Linked DNA regions of Homo sapiens. The gene in region 2 interacts genetically with the main gene of each other region. Each region holds a gene or a part of one and is shown on either strand. Other genes may lie near its edges.

Region 1 (9,106 bases), on a different chromosome or scaffold from region 2:
GTGCCATTGCCCTCCAGCCTGGGTGACAAGAGTGAGACCCTGTCTCAAAAAATAATAAAAATAATTTTAAAATATGTCATCATGAGTCCTACTAAATGAAGTAAAACAATAACTTAAATAACTTCCCCCTAAGTGACACTAAACACTCAACTTTCTAAAGGAATTCTAAAAATTAATCTACTGATTAAATCTATAACAAATTTATTGGAGGTACAAAATTTGGTGTAAGTCTCATTTATACTGAATACAATTATCTTCTCTCTTTTTTAACCAGCTTTAAATTTAGTTTCTCAAATTGCAAGGATAAACACATAAATATTTGCCTATAGATACTATATCCTGAGTGTTCTAGACAAATAGACAAAAATGAGGTAAAATTAAGAAGTGTTGGCGTATTGCTATTTCCTGAGCCCAGTTTCACTGTTCTCATTAATCCTACACTGGTCATTAAGTTCTGGGCCTTACCTATATACATATATACCTATAGGTACAGCTATATAAATATACATAAAAAATATTTTATATAATTCTCTTGAAGACATATGTAACAAATAGCAAGATTAACTATTTAAAAAAAATAATTAATGGGGAGTTTTGTCACATGTTAGGATAATAAAAAGGATAATTTTTAAAAATCACAAAGAACCTGCTGGTTAAGATAGTTTTTAGGACTTAGCTCATCCCAGGAAACCGACTTCTCTAAGCATTGTTGAAAATTTGAAGAAACAGGTATTATAAAAATTATAGAAAATGTTTCTAATATGTCTCATTTATGGTTTTTGGTAGAGAGTAATAGCCAATATTTGCTGATAACTCACTGCGTCAGCTAAGATTCTAAGCATTTTACAAGAATTAATCCATTTAGTACTCATAGCAATCTAAGAGGTAGGTATTAACAGCTTATATCAGCTCCAGAATTAGACCCTATCAATTTCAAAAGCTGAGGCCTAACATGACATGCCAGACATAGGGCGTTGACCAAAGATGAGAGAACTTCTTCTTGCAAAGTAAGGCAACAAGCAAGCGTAACACTAGAACCATCTGCCCAAAACTGCTCCATTTTTGCCTGTGTGACAAGATCAACCCACTGTATAAAGAACCAACCAGAATTCACTCTGCTTAAAATGTATCCTTTGTTTGAAAATGGCACTGCCTCTCTTGGAAGTAATAAACCCAGTAACTTCATATGTGTCAACATAGCTCATGTTAAAGAGGATGTCATGCGCTATATATTTCTATTAGCTCCTGTCTCAGAAGACAACATGTCAGTATTGAAAGACAGTCACTTATCCTCTTGTAGGTAGGTGTCCATGATTGTGTGCTTTTTAATGGATTGAAATCCTAGATGAACATTTTTCTTCAAATACCTCATTTTTTCCCACTTACATGAAATCTTTGCCATGATTCATTAGAGTAACCAGGAGAGATAAAAGTTCCAGCAGGTTTTTCAAATTTGTCTTCCAAAAAATAATAAGCCTTTTGATCCACTTAGAGCATTGACCATTCTAAACAATGTTGCTTGAATCTAAAAGATATAGTGGGTAAATTAACATTAATGACAATAACCTTTGCAATTTCCTTGCACACCAAGGAGAAGTTAATTTCCTTTGTGTTGAAAATCTTCCAGTAAACAGAATAATTATGCACTTCAGAGGAAGGGAGAAAAACACCAGAAGACCCTTGGTAGCTTCAACCCTTCAGCATGTTTTTAAACCTCGTAAGGGAAGGCCTGGGCTGGAAGAGCAGAGGATTGGTGTCAACCGGCATGTATTATGACAATGTTCAGTTTGACTAATCTGTTTTTGACCTGTTTATACAAGAATGGTGTGTGTGAAAAAGAAAGATCCTCCTTCAAGCTTTTAAAATTTTAACCAGAAAAGTGTTGGAGTGAATGAAATAAAACACTATTTCTCAACTGATACACCATGTGCTGAAGAACAAGGCAGCTGCCGTGATGCTGTTGTGACTATCTGTATCCTAGCAACCACCTACCCACAGAAAGAACCACCTCATGGATGTAATTCCCTTACTGCACACAAAGCTGGTCCATAGCACCCTGGGAAGTTAGTCTGAATGGAGGAAGGAGGCAGTGCTTTTCTCCAAAAGGACTCTTACATCACTGGGAAGAAGCTTTGCAAATAAATTAGTGCCTACCATGAATCACTGTCACAGCAGTTGGCTGGCTCTCAAATACCTTCACACACACACACAAATTCCAGTGTACTGAATGTCCTGGGAAATACTTGGGAAACCCAGACAGTGAGAGGCATTAGTATGTTTGGTCAACTTGGGAGAATCAGAAAATCAAGTCAGAATAAAAAAAAAAACAGATGCTCACACCAATTCAGATTCCAGACTTAGCAAGGAGGTCAACAGGTGATGAGAGTAGAAGTTTCTGCCTTGTATTTGGCTAAAACAACTGAAGTTTCTATACATTTGCTAATTCCCAGAATTGAGAAGAAAGCTCTGGAAGATGCTCTTAAGAAATAGAACATCTCCTAAAGAAAGACATATTGACAAGCATTATTCCACAATTGCCTTTGGAAGTTATTAACTTTGGCCATATAAAACAAGAGAGTAAAACATTTTCAGAGATAGTAAGATCTTTCAAGAAGTGTAAAGATCCCTTCTGTTCAGTGAAATTTTTTCTTCGTCTACACCTGGCAATAATAGTATTCATCCTTCCAGACCTGACTCTCAGTCATCTTGTCATGAGCCCCAGCAAACAGGACATCTGGGAAGGGCCTGGGATGGCCGTGTGCACAACCACCTCAGTGGTAATAAAGAATCTCTACAAAGTGAATCTAGTTCTTAGTTCACCTAATATCTAGGCAATACTTCCTTCATGGTGAACAATATTAGCATTCTGGAGGAAAGCGCTGGCCTGTAGGCAAGAAGTAAATAGACAATGGGGACAATTACATTCCAATGGTCAGGATCTCTGTAGTTGCTGTTGTTGTTTCTGGTTCTTTCTTAAAGTTAATTCTAATTCTCACATGAGAAACTATAACATAATAAGACTAATATTTTGTTTACTAGCTCTAGGATGGCCCAAATTTGGAGTAATAATTAAACTAAGCACTAAACTGCTTCCTGGAATTTAAAATTTCTTGAAAAAGATTTAGGAATCCTTTAAAAGAACGTGATTTCTTTCTTTAAAACTGACCTAGACCTTTCTGAGAGATTCCAGGGCCTGCCTCTCTTCTCCTCGCCCCATCAAGTGCTCTCCCCTGTTCTCCTCGACCTCTGGCCACACCAGTGAGATAAAGTGATTTGTTTCTTAAAAACTGACTATTTTGAAAACGCTCTCCAATGCAGTCATTTCCAGCTATTGAGGATAGTTATTGAGTCTTTAATTGTTTTGTTTGCAATAAGTTTATAAAAACTACTTCTGTACAATAATTGCTAAAATAGCTTAGATCAGGCAATTTACATTGGAAAGTTGCTAGGTTCTCCGAGTTTCCTCTATTGTAATCAAAGTGACAAAAAGTTTAAGGACTTCGAACAGATTTTAGAAGACTTATTTTCCAGGTAAGAAATCTTTGTTACCTTTCATCTGAGGTTCAATGTTTGACTTTTTAACTCTGTATGGATTAAAAAACAACTTATAAATTCATCTATATGAATTTGTTAAATGAAACCTATGCATCAACGATAAAAATAAAAGACATTGTACTGATTCACAAGCCAAACTATTTGATGCTCCCAATAGCAGACCACTGACTGACTAGGGAATATTCTGAGCATACTTCTCTATTTACAGATGTGTATCGTTTACACTTGACCTGTCCAGTCAGTAACTACTAAATAAGGGCACATTTCTTTTTTATAGTGAAATTTTTTGGACCATGCCACCACAAGCAAATTGCTGGAAATTAGCCTTCTTTAAAATCTTTCCATCCTAGACCTTTCTGAGAGATTCCGGGGCCTACCTCTCTCATCCTTACCCCATCAAGAGCTCTCCTCTGATCTCCTTGATCTCTGGCCACACCAATGTGAGGCCACAGTGCTCCTGGAAGTAGTTCCCCCCTACCTGTCACTCATGTACCATTTCACCTGAGCACAAGTGAGATCAATGTCTAACTTTTACTGAAGTCCTCTTTAAGAATTGTGGAGAGGGGAGGAGGACAACCTATAGTATAACTCACAATCACTGGCCATGACCAGACCTGTTAAAGTCTCTTTTCAAGTCAGTGCCCTGCCTTACTTATGACTTATGTCCATCAAGCCAAAGTAAAGGCACTCCCCAGCCCCAAAGTGCAGTAGTCCCTTCCCAGACTCAGAATACAGGACAGAGAGAGATACAGACAGAGGGAGAGAGAGATGAGAGAGAGAGAGAGATGAGAGAGAGAGAGAGAGAGAGAGAGAGAGAGAGAGAGAGAGAGAGAGAGAGAGACAGAGAAGCATGCATTCCTAATACCTGGGACTGCCTACAAGAATCTTCACTTCTGTCTCAAAATTAACATCTCCCATTGTAGAAGGAAAAGAAAAATGATTACTTTGAAATCAGGAGCCAGAAATTCTCAAAGGAGTACACAACTGTTTTTGTTTAGCAAAACACATCAGCTCACTATTTAATAGTTTTTGAAGTTATTTTCATTTAAAAAGGCAAGTCTCGGATATGATCAGAAAAGCAAAATTGGAGGAAGAAGAAATCTAAAATGTTCTGCAGAAGGATATGGATGGTCTGAAGTAGATTAAGGAGGCCCAGGAAAGCGGCCAAGGTGCAGGTCAGTATCACTGTGGGAGAAAGAGGGTTTCGCTCATGTGGTGGAAGACTAAGGCCCAAGAAAAAGAGATGTCTGGCAAGTCCCTTCCACAGATGACCTTGTGTCACTTTTAGGAACAGGAATGAAAAATGTTTTACTTTGTTGTTGGAAGCGCTGGGATGTAAGCAGCCCCTGCCCTTGCCCCAACCCTCCCAACAGCAAACCTTCAGGTAAAGTCTGTCCCCTCACAGCTCATAACAATTGTTTCCTCGTTCTTTCAAGAAGTAAGTGAGACAGGGTGGTGGCTGGTGTGAGGTGGTGAAGTATGGGAAAGGGACAGTACATGAGGGCAGTGAGACACACAGTAGATGAATCATTCAGTAGGAGGCCCAGAAGGGACACATAGCCTTGCCTTCCTCATCACAGCCCCCACCTCCAGCATCTTCCAAGACAGAGGAGAGAGACATTGGGTTTCCTGGAACATATGATAGAGGTGCAGGTCACTTTAATTTAAATAGATGCTGAGCCCAGCAAGCCACAGGACTTGGGCATTTCTCAAACTCCAGGTCCCCCTCAGGAACATCATCTGGCCTTCCACTCCTTCCGGAAGAATCTCAGCACAACCACACGCATTTCTGTTTCTACCATTACACACTCTGAGAAAAGTCATTCGCTATGAATAACCCACCTTTACTTGAAATTTAAAAAAAAAAAAAAAACCACACCTAGCAATCAAGAGAAAGGAACAGAGCTTATAGTGAAGAAAAGGTAAACGTTTATTCTACCATTTCACTTATTTTCTAAAACTATCTTCCAAGGAGGGTGTATATCACATAGAGGCTATGTAAGATGGTTTGCTATTGTGTAGAAAGAAAATATTAGATACGTTATTTGTTGTGTAATGTTCATTACATACACATGTTCATGTGTACAGTGTACATATTACATGTATGTAATTGATAAGTAAATGTGTTTATTAGAAGCATATGCTTACATTTTAATTATTTTACTGATGGAACGGAGTCTGGAGAGTACTGATTTAATAAACCAACTGAGGCCAGTCGTGGTGGCTCATGCCTGTAATCCCAGCACTTTGGGAGGCTGAGGTGGGCTGATCACTTGAGGTCAGGAGTTCGAGACCAGCCTGGCCAACATGATGAAACCCCATCTCTACTAAAAATACAAAAATTAGCAGGTGTGGTGGCATATGCCTGTAATCCCAACTACTCAGGAGGCTGAGACAGGAGAATTGCTTGAACCTGGGAGGCGGAGGTTGCAGTGAGCCAAGATCATGCCACTGTACTCCAGCCTGGGCGACAGAGCAAAACCTGTCTCAAAAAATAAAAATAAAAATAAAAAACCAACTGATCACATGGGATCAATAGAAGCCCAAACCTCACCATCACACAATATCCCCTTGTAACAAACCTCCACATGTACACCTGAATGTAAAGTAAAAATTGAAATTAAAAAAAAAAGACAAAAACTAAAAGCTAAAAAACCTCCAACCAACCATACTACCCAAGGAATAATTTGAAATGGATTTTCATAAAGGCAGATTTGTAAATTATAAAGTAAGGTTTTTAATTTGCTTGAGCCAAATTATTAGTCTGTTTACTTTTGATAGAAACAATCAATTACTTGCTCTACCATGAACACAAGCAACTTCTAAATTGAATGTCAAATATTTTGACAAGCTCAAATTAGCCCCAAAATGTAAATTAACTGAGAAAACTAATTTACCATTTTTATATGCTTTTAATAGCTTTAAAAATCCACAAGGGAAGGGTTCCACACATGGGCAAAAATATGCAAAAAACTGAAATAATCGCTATCACTTTCAAGTGGCTTGTTTTTGCTGCTGTTAAAATAAGATTATTACCGGTAAGAAACCCGACGAACAGAGTTAATTTGCAATGAATGAAATTTTTTATCAGTTGGTATAAGAAAAAGACAAACACCAGAGCCACAGTTTCACAAAGGTACTTACTCAAATCAAGTTGACATGTTCTTGTATTTTTAATAAACATTTCTTCTGATTACAAAAATATGAGTTATGTATTTTTAAATTATTTTGACTATAATTTTTAATGTTGTAGAACTATTATTGGGTTTTTCACTATGGCATTTTGTCATGTATAAAAAATGTTCGATGATTATAGGCGAAACCAAGCCACATTTAGAAAATACCATTACATTCATAAAAATAATTTTTAAAACAACAAAACATTAATAGAATCTCGGGCTTATCGAGTGTTTATTGTATGCCAAGCTCTGTTTTGTGCACTTTACATATATTAACTCAGTGGTTCTAACCCAGGCTGTTGGTTAGAATCACCACATTAAAAAAAAATAAGGCCTAGATTCCACTCCCAGAAGAGACTCTGATCCAGACTGCCCGGGGTGGCCACCCAGACATTAGTGATTCTAATGCACAGCCAGCACTGAAAATGAATACATTAACGCAATACTGACAAGAGTCCTCGGAAGAGGGTACAATTATCTTCATTTTAGGGTAAGGAAAATGAGACAAACAGTTCACAAGCAGCAGAAATGGGATTTGAATCCAGGCAAGAAATCTGTCTCCAAAATTTATGCTTCTTTACCACTAAGCTCAATGACCAAACACCACTGAATATTTGGAGGTTAGTTTCACTGCTGTTAGAAAAAAAGAAAAAAAATCGCATAACCCTGGCTGAAAAAACAGACAAGCTTCTGGTCTCAGAATTACTCTGGTTTGCACATGACTGGGATGCTGACCACGCCTTAGCCGGTACTGAAATCACTGATTTCACTGTTTACTACTAAAAGTGATAACTTAGTGCCACCCCAGGATCCCTCCCGCAGCTGGGAGGCTGTACTTCTTCCTTACCCTTTATTACCAAAAAAGTTCATATAAATAATGCAGGTACAGAAGCCAAACAGGAACAATTTCTTTTTCAACTGTTATTTGTCCTCCAGGGTAAATAGACTTGAAGGTTCAGAAACCACTTGCCAGCAGTTTTCTTTCCTGCTGTCCTCACCTGCTGTAGCTCAAGTAGACGCTAACAGAATACTCAGTTAAAAGGAGGGAGAGGGAGGGGAATAGAAAGAAACCTAATTGTGTTGCTATCACTTGGTTTATCCGGCTAGCAGTCACATGAGTAACAATCTTGCATAAGTTTACCTGAATACTGTTAGACCATAAAGCATTCTTCCTGCTGGGTCAGGTGGCTGCAGAGGTGATCTGTCTCAATGCCAAGGGCAAGAAATAAGGCAAGTAGAATTTAAATGAGGGAAAAATAGATGATGGCACCATATCTATTTAGAGAGGAGAAAGAAATACTATCCTCTGAAATGCACACAGTGACTGACAAAGGGTGACCCAGGCAGTTATCAGCTAACATGAGACCAGGAGCGTAAAGTACGGGATTTAAACCAGTGACTTGCAAGAAATGAGGTAGCAGAGAGGCAGGGAATCCCAAAGTGCCATCCACACATTCCACACTCCATGGATCTGTGCCGTGTCACTGCACTGTTCAAATACGGCATCTCATCGTATGACTTGATCAGAGATTTAGCCAAGACGTGGAGCCCAGGAGGACATTTATTGAGCATACTCTGCTAAGCACCATGCTTTGGTACATGCTAGGTTATCTCATGTGATTCCCCACAAAAAAATCCTAAAAGCAGTGGGCGAGGGTATTATTTCCCAGAGATACTCTAAAGTAACTCAGCTATTAAGTTGGTAGCATGGATATGAAATGAGGCTTGTTTGTTTCTAAAACCTGTGGTTCCTTCCACTCTGTGACACAGTCTCCCCAACTTATTGTTTCTATCCTGGGTTTCATGTTTATTGGGTACAACCTACCTCAATGAAGGCACTTCTGAGCCACCAGAGGTGGCAAGGAAAACAAGGCATAGACTTGCTTGCCAGCAGGAATCAGACTATTCTGAGATCCTAGAGCCATCCATAAAAGCTCATTTTTGTAATTTCTTGGGTTCTGCTTCAGCAACCTGGGTTCTTCTTTCCTAGCTTCTGGCTGCCTGATAGATCGGCCCAACCATCACCCCTCACATCCCATGCAAATGACAGTGCCCAACTCTAGATATTTGCCAACTACTCCACGGAAAATTCTCCCACCCCAAAGAGAGTCCAGTCCATTTGACATAACTGTATACAGAAGTTTTACTTCTGTCTCCAACAGCTGAGTCTGAGGTTCATGGGGCCATTTTTGTCATTTGTCACCCTCTTTTTGTTGCTGTTCTCTAGGACTATGTCATTAGCAGATCAGAGAAAGACGCCTCATTCATACACAAGAATTTGCTGAGTACACACTGTGGAAGCAGGAATGTCCTAGGTGCTGGGAACATAGAGATCACTAGGATTAAGTCTTTATTTCAAATACCCTAGAGTT
Region 2 (9,159 bases):
ACATTCTATATTTTATAAAGCAGTAACATGCTTCACCTAATCAGAGTTGCACAGCAGAGAACAACGATACAGTCTTTAATTAAATTTGTTGAGCTAACACCTAAGGGTCACCATGACACAGTGAAGCGGCAAGCAGCTGAGGAACCCTCCCGGGGAATACAACTAATTAATACACAAGTGGGTTGAGACTAGGTGTCCTTATCAAAGAAGTAATACAGGCCGGGCGCGGTAGCTCACACCTGTAATCCCAGCACTTAGGCAGGCTGAGGCAGGCAGATCACGAGGTCAGGAGATCAAGACCATCCTGAATAACACAGTGAAACCCCATCTCTACTAAAAATACAAAAAATTAGCCGGGCATGGTGACGGGCGCCTGTAGTCCCAGCTACTCAGGAGGCTGAGGCAGAATGGCGTGGACCTGGGAAGCAGAGCTTGCAGTGAGCCAAGATCGTGCTACTGCACTCTAACCTGGGCGACAGAGCAACACTCTGTCTCAAAAAAAATAAAAATAAAAATAATAGAATTCCCATGTTCTTGTACAAAAAATAGTAAGTAAGGTGCCTATCAAATACTCTCTTAAAAGGGGGAGGGAGTGGTTAAAAAAATGCATGAAGCTACTGTTGAAGTTCCCCTCCAACTTTGGGGACTGTTCTCAGGAGCAGCAAATACCCATCCAGCCCCCTTCGCTGACCTCCCCTCTTGTCAGTCAGGGCCTGAGGTGACAGAACAGCTCCTCAGGCTGGAAGCACCCTGGAGCAGCAGGTGGCCATGTGCCTGAGCCCGTGGCTCAGTTAGGAAGTAAGTGGGAAGAAGCCTGAGACTGGGAGTCAGGCAACCTGGGTTCCAATCCTGCCTCTGCCAAGTGAATGGCTATGGTACCTTGAACAAGTCACTCCCTCACTCTGGGCCTTGGTTTTCTCTTCTGCAAAATAAGGGGGCTGGACAAAATGACCTTTCAAGTCCCTTGCAACTCTGACTGGAAGCATGACTCAGAACTTAGCAAAAGCAGCCAGGAGAGATGGTGAGGTGAGGTCAAAGCACCCACCAAAAGCATTTAAATGGGAGCTCTCTGAGGTGGAGGGAGAGAAGCAGCAGGGTGAGCTGGGACTCTTTTTCAAATGCTGATTTCACTTAACAGGGCTAAGAGGTCACCGACTATAGGCAGAGAGGAGAGCATCTAAGCAGCTGCCAGCTCCCATCAACTCTCAGGGCTGCAACATAGCAGACTTCTGAACCCCAGCAGAGGCTGGGCTCCTGCCCTCCAGCTCTGCCCTAGCCCCCAGCATTGGCCTCGGCACACTGTAGAATAGAGGTCTCCTCCCCTTTTCTCAGGCACCTTCCCAAGGGGGTAATCCCTCTTGCCCCACTCCATCTTCCTCTCCTGCTTTATAATCACTAGACTTCTGGTTTTGAAAACCATTTCACTACTCAGCACCTGAGGTTAATCAAAATTCAAGATCTAGAAATCTCTTTGGTGTGTGTCTCTGGAACAGCGTTCTTTGAACCAGATTCCCCCCACAGCTGTAATTATGTCTCAGCCAATATTTGGATATGGAAGTGCTGTTAACACTGCTGTCAGTCTCCAAATGCCTTGTCTCTCCTTTCTTCCTCCATTATTAAGTTTTAACACAAAGACGTGTGTGGGAAATCCACAATTTAACAGTTGAGTCAACTTAAAAGATCTGGGAGCAGGCTGCCTGTCAAAACAGACTGACTTCACTCTTCGCCCACTTCTAACCTGAGAGGGATAAACTATGAGTGTTATTTAACACGCTGCTGGATTTTTCCTTCCAAAACTATTCAAAGTAGAAAAATATGTAAACCTCTCTCTCGTTAGTTACAAGAGAAATCTGAATTGCCACTCAAAAGCATTTTATAGGATGATTTTGTGCGTGTGTCTATTAAACAGAATACAGAGCAGAAGTTGGGAGCTTTTGTTCTGAAGTCTTTACATAATATTCCAAATATCCAAGAGAATGAACAGCCAGTGTCCCCAAACTACTAATGGGTGAAGGCAGATGGTGTCTCAGAGGGGACAGCAAACACTCCTGTAAAGACCGTCTGTCACTTCCTCAATGATACAGGTTAACTGTGGTCAAACTGTATTCACCCAACTCCAGTCCCCAAGGTCAGAGCCATGCTCAATCCAAACAACTCCTCCTCCTCCTTTCCCTTCAGTTATGAGTAGGGAAAGAGAAGTCTAAGACACAAATGTTGAAGTGTTGAAGATACTTATCCCCTCTCCAACAGTCAACACTAAACAACAACCGAGATCCCAGAGCAATAACTTACAGTAGAAAGCAAAGCACTGTAACAGGGTTGAGTATGAGAGCAGCAGGAAAACAATTCTAGAGGCCTTAAAATCTAGAAATGGAACATGCTTGCCCCGTACAACCCCGAAGTACTGGTGTTTCTTTTAAAACATCTGATCGTATATTCCAATAGTTCCACCCATACCACATTTCTGAGTTTTGTACTTGACAACTGAAATACAGCTCGCTGTGGGGGCTGAAGGGGAAGAGAAAAATATAACACAGGAAGTATTTTTCTCCTCCTCCAATCATTGAGACACCCCAGGGGAAACAGACCTGAGGCGTCACCTTTAGAGATTGGTTTGACCTGAAACCCCTGTGAGAGGAAAACCTTGTTGGTGACCCTGCAAGACCGGCTCACACTTCACTGCGGACCCACCCATCTCATGAGACCTCCCAGTCCATTGTGTTTAACTTCTGAAGTCGATATTCTCACTTGAATCCTTATTCTCCCCACCACCACACCCCTTAAAGAAAGAAAAGGGATGGGCTCCCCCGGCTCAAGGATAATGTTTCCTCAGACTGCCCATCACGGCGCGAGTCCAGGACAGCAAGTGGCCCTCTCTAGGAGGCGGAATCAGCACGGGCCCGGCCGCGGGTTACAGACTCTGTTCACAATGATCAGCCGGGCCGCGGACACCGCCGGCCTCTCCCCGGAGCCGCCCCGCGCGGGCGTGGGAGGGGGCCAGCTGAGGGGGCCAGCTCCGGGATCCAAATAATCCCGCCCCCGCAGCCGGGGGACACCCAGGACCCTCCCGCCGCACACCTCCTGCCCGGCGCGCCCCAAGGCGGCCCGGCTGCCCTCGCGAGGCTCGGGGAAGTGAAATCACACATTCCGGCTCCCAAATAAGGAGCGAGGCTAAATAAACCTCTGCGATCCGACTTCTCCAAACCAACCGACCAACCGGCTCAATGAGTAATGGGCCTTTTGTGCCCGCAGAGAGAGAAAAAGGAGGGAGGAGAGGACGGGGAACCACCAACCCCAAAATCACTTCCTTGAGATGGAGTGAAATTAGCAGAAGTCCCGAAGCCAACCGTTCTGACTCGGCTGGATCCCGCTCAAACCCCAAAATGGCAGGGTCCCCTGAGTCCCCAGGAGCGGGTCCCAGGGCTCCCGCCCGGGAGCGGCCGGAAGCGGTCAGGGAGGCGAGGGCGCTGGGACCCGCCGCCCGCGCCGCACTCGGCACCGCCGGCCCGGCCGCCCCGCCCCGCCCCGCCGCGGCCACCCCTCCGCCCCGCGCCGCGACCCAGGCCGGGACGGGCACCCGACGCCGTGGAGCTCCAGGGCCCGGGACCGGCCCCGCCTCCCCTCCCCGGGCCCCAGACCTACTTTGAGGGCGAATTTCTCCTGGGTCCTCTTGTTGAAGATCTGCAAAACTTTGCCGTTGATGCCCAGCCCCAGGACCTGGCTGGTGACCTTGTAGTCATCGATGATGGCGTTCTTCTTGATCTGCAGGCCGGACTTGACGTGGAACTGCGGGAACTGCTGCGGGGGCGGCGGCGGCGGCTGCGCCGGGGGGTGCGGCAGGGCAGGGGTGGGGGGCTGCGGCGGCGGGGCCGGGGCGGGGAACGGCACCGGCGGGCTCTGGCCCTGGGAGTTGGACAGCATGGTGCCCGGGGACGCCGGGGCACAGGCGGGGGTGCCCGCGGCCGCCCCCTCCTCCGGCTCCGGGCCCCCTCCCCGCCGCCCCCCGACGGGCTGCGAAGTTCGCTCCGGGCTGGAGCCGGCTTCCCCGACCCGGCCCGGCTCCAGGCTCGGCGGGTCGCGGGGCTCCGTGGGTCCCACCGCGCGCCGCTGGCTCCCACCGGCCCGGCGCCCTCCCTCCCTCCCCCCGGGGGCCTGGCGCTCTGGGGACCGCGGGGCGGCGGGGGCCCGGCCGGGGGGAAGCGGCCGCGCGACAATGTACCCAGCCCCGGGCCGGCGGCCGCGTCACAGCCTCGTCTGCGTCCGGGGCCGGTCCTTAAAGGGGAGGGGCGGGGGGCGGGGCCTGGGGAGGCGTGGCGTGGGGGGAGGGGCGGGCCTTAAAGGGGAGGACGCGCGGTGCCGGGAGCTGGGAGGATCGCGGAGTAGGCTGGGGGCTGCTGCCTCGCGGACAGTGAGAGGGGACAGGGAGAGGGGACGAAGAAATGCTAGTTCTTAACCAAGGCTATGCAAAGGGAGAGGGGAGGCGTGTCAAAGGAGCTGCATAATTCAGATGGAAAATCCACTCCTCTCCAATTGTCTGGGCTTCTTAGCGGCAGCGAATTGGGAGAGGGGTGTATTTCCAAGGACAGGGATGGCTTGTAGGTATCCAGCTAGATGAGACCTCGTGGGGGTGGGGGGGAGCTGGAATCACAGGGGTCATTCATCCCAGGAAAAGGTGTGAGCCAAAGGCGGGCGTATTAAATATTTCCCTAACTTCAACATTTTCCTCTGAGGTTTTTTGCATCTCTTTTCTCATTAATTTATTGTTTTTCAGTAAAGACGTATTATTGTGTAACCAGGAGCACTTTAGTAATTATACCTTTGAACATGTTTTCCTGTAAATAAACTAAAAAGGATACAGGGTGGGAAGAGGATGGGTTGAGATTGGGGCCACCTGAATTCCCGCCATCCTTTGCCACGGATTGGCTGTGTGAGGCTGAGCAAGCCTTGCACCTCTCTCTCCGTGGGAAGAACAGCGAGACCTTTTCAAAGGTTGTGGGCAGAGTCAAAGGAGATAATGAAACTGAAGGGGAGGCCCTGGGGAATGGCTTCTGATTTCCGATGTGGAAAAATTAATCCGTAAGAAGTGGGTTAGCCCCGTGTATCTCAGGAAAAGCCCAGGGATCTAGCTGGACCCTGCATAGAAGCTGCCAGGAGGCCTCCACACACATTCTGATGGGGTTCGAGATGACCAAGTACATTCCTGCCGACCTCCTCCCACCTCTGACTGGCAGAACATTTGAGAAATGGCAAGCAACCCAGACAGGTGAACACAAAACCTCAGCTTAAGTCTTGGTAAGGCCAGTTAGAGAATGAGGCTTGACCTATGGCCACACATGCCCCCTAATAGGTCCCCCAAAACTCCAGAGAGAAGACAACACCCCCAGAAGTGGCCACTGGGGATAGAACTTAGGTAGGTAAGGGACAAGTGCAAATGTCTCTTCCCTCATTCACCTTTCCCAGAAGATGCTTGTGGAGGCAGGAATGAGGGGGAGGAGTGAGGGGTGGGAGTTACCCTCCCAACACTGTCCTTTCCTGGGGCAGGTAGGGCTCTGTGGACCAAGGAGAGACATGTTTCCCCCGACACAAACATATGCTCTTCTCAAGCAGCATCTGCTTAGCTCCATGTACAAGGTGCCGTGCTCAGCCCTGCAGCGGTGGATGGTGTTATCTGATGGGGAAGAAGACAGATAACAGTGGCACAGAGAGGATGGCAGACACCTTCCTAGGAGCCCGAAGCACAGGGATTCTCTTCTGTCTACAGCAGCCAGCAGCTTCCTCCCGAGTCTACAGGATAGATACGGTTAGACAGCTCCCCAGATGCCCCTGACTCTTCAAAGACAAAGACACTATCTAAGGCCACGGGGATAGGAAAACATCTTCACTCCACTACTTCTATAGCACTGCTATCACCTCCCCGAAGCACACACAGGAGATGCCCAAGGACAAGAGGAACGCAGGGGTGGGAAGGTGGAAGGCTCCAACTGCTCAGGCTCTGGTGGGGCTGCTCTGGAGTCTGAGTTGGTCTTTTTTTTCTTTGCAGAGTCACTGGAAGCTCCCTATGGCTTGGTGTTGAGGTATCACCTGCTTTTCTCCACAAAGCTAGAAAGAGAATAACTTCCTTCTGCCTTTTCAGAGGCAGCAAGGCACAGTGGTAAGATGACAGGATCTAGAGACAAATGAGCTGAAGCCAAGACTGTCCTCCAACTGGGTTACCTTGAGCAAGACATGTAACATCTCTCAGCATCTGAAAAAGAAAAGAAAAAAACAACAAAATCTACTTTCGGGGCTGAGAGAGAATAAAATGAAATAGTAATTATGAGAACACATCCTAAAGCATAAACTATACATTATCATGAAATATTAAATATCACCATTATTTAGACATTGCTGGCTTGCTCCTCTGCTCTGTGCTCATGGCCTACGGATCTATTCCTGATATCAAAGCTGCTTTCCTACCTAGCTGGAGCTCCAGGGAGATGGTGAGGCCCAATGATCTAGGAATAACAGGACAACTGAATTCCCACCTGAGAGTCCTCCCGGAGCTGCAAGAGCCAAATAGGCCTAGGGGGCACACAGGGACTCTGAGGGTACATACATAGTGGATAGAGATTATATGAACTGCACACACAGCACCAGAAAACACACACATATATGAACACAACACATGAGCACAATGTGCCATGTAACAGAATAAACGCCTAGTGGATGAATAATTGAGGAGTAAGATGTGCTAAATGCAGAAGCACTGGCCAAGAGATCCTGAGTCTTAAGTTCCATTCTGATACTGACTCGCTATGTAACCTCATGAGAGCCCCTTGCTCTCTCAGTTCCTTCCTTCTCATCTGCAAAATAGTGACAATAACATCTGCCTTGCCTACTTTGTAGGGCTTGTGCAAGGATAAAATAAAAACTTTCCTACAGGAAGCAGTCCAAAGTCCTATTTGTGTAACACCAGGCTCTTAGCCATCTGTAATGAACTACTTAATAAACAGTTTTTATGGATGTGTAAAAGCGCTTTAAAACTTGAAAGTCTATGCAAATAGAAAGTACTATTTTTATCTACTATTAACATGCAAACACATATGCCATGCAATATAGTACACACAAAGACAATTTAAGGACCTCAGGTACATAGAAATGGATTAATTATAATCCTTGATTCATGACACACTCTCGTCATTGGATCATTGATCCATGCAGCTCCACTTTTATTGTTAGTTAATAATTATTTTTAATAATGCAGTAAGCACCTGTGAATCCACTACCCAAAATAAAAACTAGAACTTCGACAATAATTTACATCTAACTAGATGATTCCTCCACACACACTCCCCCAACCCCTCCATTTTCATGGCCCAAGACCCCATCATCCTGAGTCCTATGTTCACCTTTCCCTTGCTTTCCTTTTTATATAGTTTTGTTTCATGAAGGCATGTTCAAAGGTATCATAAAAGATGAAACTCAAATCACCTTAAAAGGGAGGTGGCCAAGGGTGATGTTAGCAGCAAGACCAGGTTAAAATAAGAAAATGCCTTGTCACAGTTTCAAAGTATTCCTCACCTTCTCATGATGATGGTGATGATGATGTTGATGATGATGATGATGATGACGATGACAATGTTTTTTGAGTGCTTCCTGAGTGCCCAACACTGTGCTCAACCCTCTACCTGCATTGTCTCATTTAAATCTCATGATGATCCGTGGCTGAGATTGCTAGTTGGGTGGGCTAACACCTTTTTTTCCTCTCTTTGATAGTAAAGAGCACCCCATATTTAGCTAAGCACAAGACTGCCTGGAATAAAAATTACATTTCCCACTTGAGCAGCCTCCACTATAGCCGGTTACATTCATAAGATTAAGTTATAACCAATGACTTGTAAGTGGAAGTGGTTTATGGAAAGAAGTATGTCCTTCTTCTTCTCCTTCTCTTTTTTCTTTCCTGCTGACTGGAATAAAAATTTCACAGCTGTAGCCATCTTGGATGGTGAATTGGAGGTTACAGGTTGAGGAAGACAGAACAAAAGGACAGAAAGAGTCTGTATACTGGTGAACCTGGATCCATCATATCAGCAATGAGCCACCTACCCAGACTTTTATATGAAAGAACAATAAATGGCCTTCTTGTTGAAGTGACTGATGGTCTAGGTTTTCTATCATTCACAGCCAAACCTTATCCTACTCTTACACAGCCCTATGAGGTCTGTACTGTTATCCTCACTTATCTGTTGTATAAACAAGAAAACTGAGTCCCAGAGAAATTAAATAACTTTCTCAGAGTCATTCCACTAGCGAAGGACAGGACCCAAATCTTTCTGACCCAAAGTCCATGCTCATGGTCCTTACTATAGATCCTGAGCAGACATATACTCACATATCCTTCTTAATGTCAGAAATATGATATCTGCTATTTCTGGGCAGGAATTGCCTGAAGAGGTATGGGCTATTCTTTCCATTTTAGAGCAACATAAATTTTCCACACCTCAATTTCCTTCCATCTTGGCCTAATCTGTTACAGAATATAGGTCTATGTTAATTTGCATGACTGGGTTATATGATAGGATACATTGTGACAATCTTTTTCTTCAAGATTCCCCCACACAGCCTTCACACCATCATGGAGTAAAAGTTTCCTGTTTTACTATGACGTGGCATTATGAATGAGTGACAGAGGGTGGAAATTTATGGAGGTGGATCTCTTGGAAATTTTCAGCTAACACTCTCTTGATGAGTGAGGATCATCCACAGGCTGGCGGATCTGCGCATGAACACAGATAAAGCAGCCTTTGTATCCACTGCTAGTACCGCAAACAAAATATTGCAAGAAGGAGCATGATTTACAGAAGAAGCTCTGTCCACTAAAAACCCACTCTTGGAAAGAAAAATGGCTTAGAGCCAGAGAGAAATAGTCTTCATGTCATAGGCTAGTATTTCTGTGATAAAATGAGAAATTCCCCCAAAGCAAAAGTGACAGATATATATACATAAGACTCAGTCACAAAAATTTCTGACCCAGAAAATGACCTCAAAATATTGGTCAGGATGGCCTCTATCATCCCTTCTATCTTAGCTCTTTCTGAAGGTGTTAACGGCTGCCTCACAGAAAGGAATTCTACCCATAGCAAGTGCCATTGGTAATGCCCTAGTTAAGACATCCCAGAG

The links.
Region 1: of MAPKAPK2 (region 2) and EGF, changing one enhances a phenotype caused by changing the other (phenotypic enhancement), as found in Homo sapiens cells (one study listed by BioGRID).

What each region holds. Positions count from the first base shown.
Region 1 is NC_000004.12:109,914,578-109,923,683, reverse strand, and holds part of EGF (pro-epidermal growth factor isoform 1 preproprotein), read right to left. Parts: intron 1-9,106.
Region 2 is NC_000001.11:206,679,992-206,689,150, reverse strand, and holds the start of MAPKAPK2 (MAP kinase-activated protein kinase 2), read right to left. Parts: upstream 4,247-9,159; 5' UTR 3,922-4,246; coding exon 3,643-3,921; intron 3,518-3,642; exon of another isoform or gene 3,294-3,517; intron 1-3,293. UniProt on the Homo sapiens protein: Stress-activated serine/threonine-protein kinase involved in cytokine production, endocytosis, reorganization of the cytoskeleton, cell migration, cell cycle control, chromatin remodeling, DNA damage response and transcriptional regulation.